2 linked regions of the Homo sapiens genome follow. The protein of the gene in region 1 interacts with the protein of each later gene in a pairwise test. Each region holds a gene or a part of one and is shown on either strand. Other genes may lie near its edges.

Region 1 (4,608 bases):
GGCGGGGACAGGGGGAGGGAGAGAGAGAGAGAGAGAGAGGACAGCTTACGCCATTATTTCTGTGTATCAGAGACTTTTAGTACTTTCACTAATTTTGCTACTGCTATCTAGAAGGCAGAGCCAGATGTACAGGATGGAACATGAAAGTGAAACAGGAGTGTGACCGCTGAAGTACAGCGTCACAGGGAGATGTTTAGGCCTCCAGATAACTGTGGGCGGGCCTGACTGATGTCAAGCCCTCCACAAAAGGTGGTGGAGTAAAGTCTTCTCTAAACTCCCCCTGGGAAAGGGAGACTCCCTTTCCCGGTCTGCTAAGTAGCGGGTGCTTTTCCTTTGCATTGATGCTACCGCTAGACCACGGTCCGCCAGACCAGGGTCCGCCAGACCACGGTCCACTTGGTAACCGGCGTCTTCCCAGACGCTGGCATTACCGCTAGATCAAGGAGCCCTCTGGTGGCCCTGTCCGGACATAACAGAAGGCTCGCACTCTTGTCTTCTGGTCACTTCTCACTATGTCCCTTTGGTTCCTATCTCTCTATGGCCTGGTTTTTCCTAGGTTATGATTATAGAGCGAGGATTATTACAATATTGGAATAAAGAGTAATTGCTACAAACTAATGATTAACGATATTCATATATAATCACGTCTATGATCTAGATCTAGATCTAGTATAACTCTTGTTGTTTTGTATATTTTATTATACTGGAACAGCTTGTGCCCTCGGTCTCTTGCCTTGGCACCTGGGTGGCTTGCCGCCCACAGAAACTAAGTCAGATAACTTGCCAAAAGCCACACTGCTGATGTGCAGCGCACCCGCTTCACTGCAGGTGGAAGTGGAAGTGAATAATAACCTTCCTGGAAGGCAGTCTGCAAGCCCATATTGACAGCTGAAAAATATTCATTCCCTTTCACCTAGTGATTCGACTCCCAGGAATCCATTCTAAGAAAACAACCAGAGTTGAGCCATTTCGTTCTTGGCAGCACATGTGAAACAATGGCACATCCATTATGACGCTGGGCTCTGGTTGCGTCATAATGTACGTTTAGTATGTGGAGTGACAATGGGCGCTAGCTCGTAATATAATGCTATTAATAAACGAAAAGAGATACAAAAAATAGTCATGATATGCATATATATTGCAATAAACCATGATTTCTGTGCGTGGTGGGATGGTAATTTTTAATTTCCACATTGAATATTTCTGTTTTCTACTTATTAGTTTGATAATCGGAAACAAAAGCCAAGTGTCTTTGTTGTTTGTGTGTTTGATGCTGAGTTTCCCGGGCAGCAGGACTGGGAGGTTGAGTGGGGGTTTTGGCTCAGACCGGGAGCAGAGCGGCGGGTGGGGAGCGGCAGGCGGGCAGGGTCCCCGGAGGCCCCCGGGCTCTGCCCCTCCAGCTAGAGAGGCAGCCGAACCCTAGCGGCCTGGAAGGGGCCGGGAAACCGCGGCCAGCTGGCAAGGAGTGGCCCCCGGGGGCGGGGCGCCGGCGGGTGTGTGAGTAGCCCGCCCGGCCCGGGTCCGAGTTCCAGCCCCGCGATGGCCTCCGCGGGCAGCACCGCTCGGCGGGCGGGCTCCGGAAGCTGGCACTCAGAAAGGGGAGAAGGGAGAGGTGCTCGGCCGCAGCCAACTCCAAGTGGCTCCATGCAGCAGGCGAACAAAGTCTCCTTGAAGGCCACCTGGACTGACGCGGAGTCCAAGCAGCCCAGGTGGGTAGCGGGAGAAGGTGTCCCGGCTGCAGGGAGCGAGAACCCGGCCCAGCGCCTCCCTGGTGGGCAGGGCCTGGAGCGGGCGGGGGCGGAGGCTGCGGCCCGAGAAGCCAGCAGAGACAGGCTGGGGCCAGGGATCGCCTCCCGAGAGGTGCCTAGGCCGTGGCCCAGAGTCGCTTCCCCACTGCCCCGCCCACCAGCCAGGCGGGGGCCAGGGATCGCCTCCCGAGAGGTGCCCGGGCCGTGGCCCAGAGTCGCTTCCCCACTGCCCCGCCCTCCAGCCAGCCCCTGCCCGACCTCGCAGACCACCTCAGTGCGCAGGCGACTGCCCTCGCCAGGCCGCGCCGCCCTGCCTCGCTCACCCCGCCCCGCGCTGACCCCAGCCCCAGCAAGGAGTCCGACCAGACGGCAATCGACCAGACGGCGATCGGGAGCTACTACCAGCTGTTCGCAGCGGCTGTGGGCAACGTGGAATGGCTGCGATTCTGTCTGAACCAGAGCCTCAGGGAAATCCCCACCGACGACAAGGTAAGGTCTTGAGTGTTGGGGCAAAGACCGAGGTCCCTCTCCCGCTACGCTGCTCGGAGTGGTCACCTGGAGAAGAGATATCCTTTTCTGGGTAGATCTTCCTAATTTAACTCATCTTCTGGCTGTGGAAGGACCATTTTGGGGGCAGGGAGGTTGGGTGGGCTGATGAACACACACTGGTTAATTAGCAAAAGGGTGTGAGCATTCCTGGGGACACAGGGAAGAAAGTGAAGGTAACCCCAATAAATTTATATAAATTGTGGACCCTGGGACCTCAGTCCCACTCAGCCTCCTCCTGCCTGCTCTGAACCTCACAGGGCTTCACTGCCATCCACTTCGCCGCCCAATGGGGCAAGCTTGCATGCCTGCAGGTCCTGGTAGAGGAGTACAAGTTTCCCGTGGACCTGCTGACCAACAATAGCCAGACACCCCTGCACCTCGTCATCCACAGGGACAACACCACCGTGGCCCTCCCCTGCATCTACTACCTGCTGGAGAAAGGCGCAGACCTCAATGCGTGAGTCCAGCCTGCTTCAGGAGGGAGGCTTCGGGCACAGGCACGGGCACAGCCCTACTTCCAGGCAGGCAAATCCATGCAGGACAAGCAGAGGGGTTGCTGGAGGTGACAAGGATTGGGTCCCACATAAAGCAGTCAGGAATCCACATGGTGTAATAAAGAGACTGGGCTTTAGCCGGGCATGGTGGCTCATGCCTATAATCCCAACACTTTGGAAGGCCGAGGCAGGCGGATCACCTGAGGTCAGGAGTTCAACACCAGCATGACCAACATGGAGAAACCCCATCTCTACTAAAAATACAAAATTAGCAGGGCATGGTGGCGCATGCCTGTAATCCCAGCTATTCGGGAGGCTGAGGCAGGAGAATTGCTTGAACCCAGGAGATGGAGGTTGCGGTGAGCTGAGATGGTGCCATTGCACTTCAGCCCGGGCAACAAGAGCGAGACTCCGTCTCAACAAAAAAAAAAAAAAAAAAAAGATTGGCCTTTAACAGACCTAGTCTACATCCCAGCTCTGCAACTTGCTAGCAGACAGCAGGACCTTAGGCAAGTCACTCAACCTCTATGCCCCAGTACTCTGGCTCCCAAACTTAGGTGTACATTGGAATTACCTAGGGAGCTTAAAAAATATGAACACCTGGCCGGGTGGCATGGTGGCATAGTCCCAGCTACTTGGGAGGCTGAGGCAGGAGAATCGCTTGAACCCGGGAGGTGGAGGTTGCGGTGGGCCGAGATTGCTCCAATGCACTCCAGCCTGGCAATAGAGCGAGACTGTCTCAAAAAATAAAAAATAAAAAAAATTAGGCTGGCCGCAGTGGCTCACGCCTGTAATCCCAGCACTTTGGGAGGCTGGGGCGAGCGGATCACGAGGTCAGGAGATCAAGAACATCCTGGCTAACATGGTAAAACCCCGTCTCTACTAAAAATACAAAAAAGTTAACCGGGCGTAGTGGCGGGTGCCTGTTGTCCCAGCTACTTGGGAGGCTGAGGCAGGAGAATGGCGTGAACCTGGGAGGCAGAGCTTGCAGTGAGCCAAGATCGTGCCACTGCACTCCAGCCTGGGCGACAGAGCGAGACTCCGTCTAAAAAAAAAAAATTAAAAAATATAAACACCTGTGTTCCAATCCAAAGGCTGTGATTTAATGGGTCTGTGGTGTGACCTGGGCTTGGGAAGTCAGAAAAGATCCCCAGGTGCTTCTAACTTGAAGCTAAGTTTGGGAACCTCTGTCTCAGTGTCTTCAACTGAAACTTGGGAGAATAGCAGTACCTATCACATGGGACTACTGTGATCACTGAAAAGTGCATGGCATATAGGAGACTGCATTCATTCAAAGTATCAAGTATGCACTATGTGCTAAGCACTATGCTAGAGTCACAGAAATGGTCCCTCTCCTCACGAAGCTGACATTCTAGTAAAGGAGCAGACAGTGAATTAGCAAACAAATAAATGAACAAAATCCTGACAGAGCATGGGAAGTGGTTATGAAAAAATAAACGGGGTGATGGTGTAGGGGGTAAAGCAGGTAGGGGGAGGATCTATTTTGGATGAAGCAATCACCTCTAAGGAGGTGACATTTAAATTGGAACCTGAAGACAGAGTGAGCCAGCCATGCAAAGAGCCAGGGAAAAGTGTTCCAGGTAGAGGTAACATCATATGCAAAGACCATGTGTTGGGAAAGAGTGGGCAAGGTCAAAGGATAAGATCGAGGAGGTTAGGCCCAGGTCATGCAGATCTTGTGGGCATACGGAATCTGGTGAGGCATAGGGAAAGGGCAGGGGGCTGGTTGGTTTAAGAGTGGATGAGGTTAGTGGTCTCTGAACCAAGCCAGCTCTCCTTCCAGCAGTTCTTAACTA
Region 2 (3,809 bases), on another chromosome or scaffold:
CTGAGGTGGGAAGATCACTTGAGGCCAGGCATTCAAGACGAGCCTGGGCAGGAAAGCAAGACTTCGTTTCTATTTTTTTTTTTTTTTTTTTGAGATGGAGTCTTGCTCTGTCACCCAGGCTGGTGTTCAGTGGCGCCATCTTGGCTCACTGCAACCTCTGCCTCCCGGGTTCAAGCGATTCTGCCGCAGCCTCCCGAGTAGCTGGGATTACAGGCGCCTGCCACCATGCCAGGCTAATTTTTTTGTATTTTTAGTAGAGATGGGGTTTCACCATGTTGGCCAGGCTGGTCTCAATCTCCTGACCTCAAGTGATCCGCCCGCCTAGGCTTCCCAAAGTGCTGGGATTACAGGCGTGAGCCACCGAGCCCAGCCCATTGTCTCTATTTCTTTTTTTTAAGAAGTGGCAGGAAGATCAGAGAGAAGCAAAGGGCCTCTCCTGAGGCACGGGCAAGCACTTGCATTGCAGGGTACAGCTGCAGAGGAAGGGGATTGGGACGTGTGAATAGGGGTTCTGGAGGCTAGGGTGAGGTGTGAGGGTGACTCTGGCCTTTGGGCCATTTCATGCCTTCATGTCAGCTGCTGGTTGGGCTCCTGGTGGCCACATTCATGCTTTGGTCCTGACCCCAGGCAGGCTGGTGTCTGCCTGTGTGGCAGCCCTGGTGCCCATATCAGTTGGGGAGCCTCCTTTGTGGTCACCACTCTTGTTCTTGGGCATCAGCTGGTTGCCTGGCTGTGTTAGTGACCCAGCCCACAACAGCCCCCTACTCTACCCTGGCTACATGCAGTGCCCATCTCTGGGGTCACTGCAGAGTAGACCTGGCTAATGCCACCCTCTCTTCCGGCTGCCTTTCAGGAAGACCATGCTCAATGACCTCCTGCGGTTCGATGTGAAAGACTGCTCCTGGTGCAGGTGGGTGGCCCCGTGCTCCAGGGCCCTGCCTTTCCTCCTAGAACACAGTGGCACAGTGCTGGGTCCCAGTTGCTAGCAGAGTCTCTCTCATCATGGGAAGCTAGAAAGAAGCTTCCAGGAGGAGATAACCACGGCCTCAGGGATGCCACATCCAGAGCCGCCCTGTCAGGCTGAGGAGATCAAGTAACCACCCCGCACCTGCAGCTGCCAAGCTGGGCACACAGGGCGGCACCCTTCTGGGCTGTCCACCTCTACCTCGAGGCTGATGCTAGTATGGGTACAGAAGTTGCTATGTCTTTTCTCTCACACTTGATTTTGTAAGATGGCTAGTAGTTACAAATTAATTTAAAAAATCATTCTGAAGGCTTCACAATTATTTGTCAAAAATTGCTTAAGTATAAAACTCAGAAAAAAGCTAGGAGTTCAAGACCAGCTGGGCAACAAAGTGAGACCCTGTCTAGGAAGATAGATAGACAGATGATAGATAGATAGATAGATAGATAGATAGATAGATAGATAGAAAGAAAGATAGATAGATGATAGAAAGACAAAGAGAGATGATAGATAGATGATAGGTAGATTAGACAGATAGATGACAGATAGATAGATAGTGGATAGATGATAGATGACAGATCGATAGATAGATGATAGGTAGATGATAGGTAGGTAGATTAGATAGATGATGGGTAGATAGATGACAGACAATAGATGATAGATGATAGGTAGATAGATGATAGATGACAGATAGATGATGGATAGATTATATAGGTAGATGATAGGTGGATAGATGATGGATATATAGATTATATAGATTAGATGATTGATAGATGATAGGTAGATAGATAGATGATGGTTAGATAGATAGGTATTAAATGAAATTGATGGACCCCGTGCTGTAAGATGCTGCACTGCTGCTGAGAGCAGGAGTGTGGATGGTCCTGGAGTAGCATGAGGACCTGGTCACATTCTGTGAGTGGAATAAGCAATTTACAAAATATCTGCCACTTGATTCCATTTTAAAAAATTTCATGGAAGCCTAAGTATGCGTAGGAGAGGTGTGCAGGGAAGACCTCAAGGTGTTGCCAGAGGTTTTCTGGTAATGGGAATTTGCATGAGCTTTAGTGCCTATTTTGTTTTTTCCTTATTGGTGATTTTTTTTTTTTAAGTTTCTATGATGAGACAGGTATCACCTTCAAAATACAAAAGTGAAACGTAGCTGGGCGCGGTGGCTCACGCCTGTAATCCCAGCACTTTGGGAGGCTGAGGTGGGCGGATCACCTGAGGTCAGAACTTCAAGACCAGCCTGGCCAACATGGTGAAACCCCGTCTCTACAAAAATACAAAAAATTAGCTGGGCATGATGGTGGGTGCCTGTAATCCCAGCTACTCAGGAGGCTGAGGCAGGACAATCGCTTGAACCCAGGAGGTGGAGGTTGAGCCGGGATCGTGCCACTGCACTCCAGCCGGGACGACAGAGAGAGACTCCGTCTCAAAAAAAAAAAAAAAGAAAAAAGAAAGGCAGCACAGGGATGCAGGGCCACCCTGTGGGGGTGTGGACCTCATGGGTGACCCCCGCTGACTCTCACCACCCCTGTGCCCACCCCAGGGCCTTTACCACTGGGACCCCACCGGCCCCCCGTTACCACCACTCGGCCGTCGTCTATGGGAGCAGCATGTTTGTCTTTGGTAAGCAGCCTCTTGCCTCCCAGGGGCTGTGTCGCCCCGAGGCCCACAGACACCCTGCCCTTCTGCAGGCCTGGGGCATTTGTGCTCGTGCTGTGTACAGCAGGGGCTCTCTCTCCACCCGTGGCTTTGTCTGCCAGTCTTCGGAATTCTGCGCTGGATCTGGGACCCCTTGCCCTAACGGCCCTGAGCTCACAGGGTTGGGTGTCTTTCTGTGTTACTGAGCTGTGGCTGGGAACAGTGTCCTGCTCATCTCTGTGTCCCCAGAGCCCAGCACAGAGGCAGACAGGCAGCAGGTCGTTCCGGGGCTTGTGGAAGGAGTCCTGGCTTATGCATTTTCAGGGGGGCCAGATTCTGCTCCACCTTCCAGGGTTTGAAATCTCCAAGACTGCCCTTTGGGTTTGACAGTTTCTCACTCTCTTTACTCAGGGGGTTACACTGGGGACATTTATTCCAATTCTAACTTGAAGAATAAAAACGACCTCTTTGAATACAAGTTTGCAACTGGCCAGTGGACGGAGTGGAAAATTGAAGGACGGTGAGAAACTTTGCAGAAACATTTGGGACAGGCTGGGTCCTGGGTGGCATTGGACCTGGGATCTGCCCCCTTTTGCCTCCCAGATGAGGACCCTGAGGGCACGCAATAGCAGGGAGCTTGGGATTGGTGGAATATCCCCCGGTGCAGCTATGCATGGCCTGCTCCCAGCCCTTAGACTCCCTCCTTTCAGAAGAGACCCAAATGGACCAGGCGTGGTGGCGCATGCCTGTAGTCCTAGTACTTTGGGAAGCCGAGGTGGGAAGATCACTTGAGCCCATGACTTCAAGGCTGCAGTGAACCATGTGTGCCCCACTGCACTCCAGCCTGGGAGACAGAACAAGACCTTGTCACAAAAAAATGTTCAATAAGATCCAATGTACTGCTGATGGCGCTTCTGGGGTCCCGCTTTTTGAGCACCCCCTTTGATATTTTGGGGGCACCTAGGAGAAGGTTCTGTGCCTCTGTGGCTGTCTGAATTCCTCTTCAAGCCACTAGTCGGCCTCTGGGGCTGTTGTTTATTCCTAGTGCCTTGTGGAGGTCCTGAAGCCCCAGTGTCGGGTGGATGTAGCCATGCAGCCTGGCTGTGGCCCCTGCACTGACCACATGGGGCTGGGTGGCTCAGGTCTGTGCTGGGCGGCCTCACTCCCTCCCCTCTTCCCTCACACTCCAGGTTGCCAG

What was found.
Region 2: the proteins of ANKRD53 (region 1) and LZTR1 interact in a two-hybrid assay, tested with the Homo sapiens proteins (one large-scale study listed by BioGRID and IntAct).

The regions. Positions count from the first base shown.
Region 1 is NC_000002.12:70,977,107-70,981,714, forward strand, and holds the start of ANKRD53 (ankyrin repeat domain-containing protein 53), read left to right. Parts: upstream 1-1,523; 5' UTR 1,524-1,539; coding exon 1,540-1,709; intron 1,710-1,990; coding exon 1,991-2,237; intron 2,238-2,554; coding exon 2,555-2,754; intron 2,755-4,608. UniProt on the Homo sapiens protein: Required for normal progression through mitosis. Involved in chromosome alignment and cytokinesis via regulation of microtubules polymerization.
Region 2 is NC_000022.11:20,984,988-20,988,796, forward strand, and holds part of LZTR1 (leucine-zipper-like transcriptional regulator 1), read left to right. Parts: intron 1-853; coding exon 854-910; intron 911-2,516; coding exon 2,517-2,596; intron 2,597-3,022; coding exon 3,023-3,131; intron 3,132-3,801; coding exon 3,802-3,809. UniProt on the Homo sapiens protein: Substrate-specific adapter of a BCR (BTB-CUL3-RBX1) E3 ubiquitin-protein ligase complex that mediates ubiquitination of Ras (K-Ras/KRAS, N-Ras/NRAS and H-Ras/HRAS).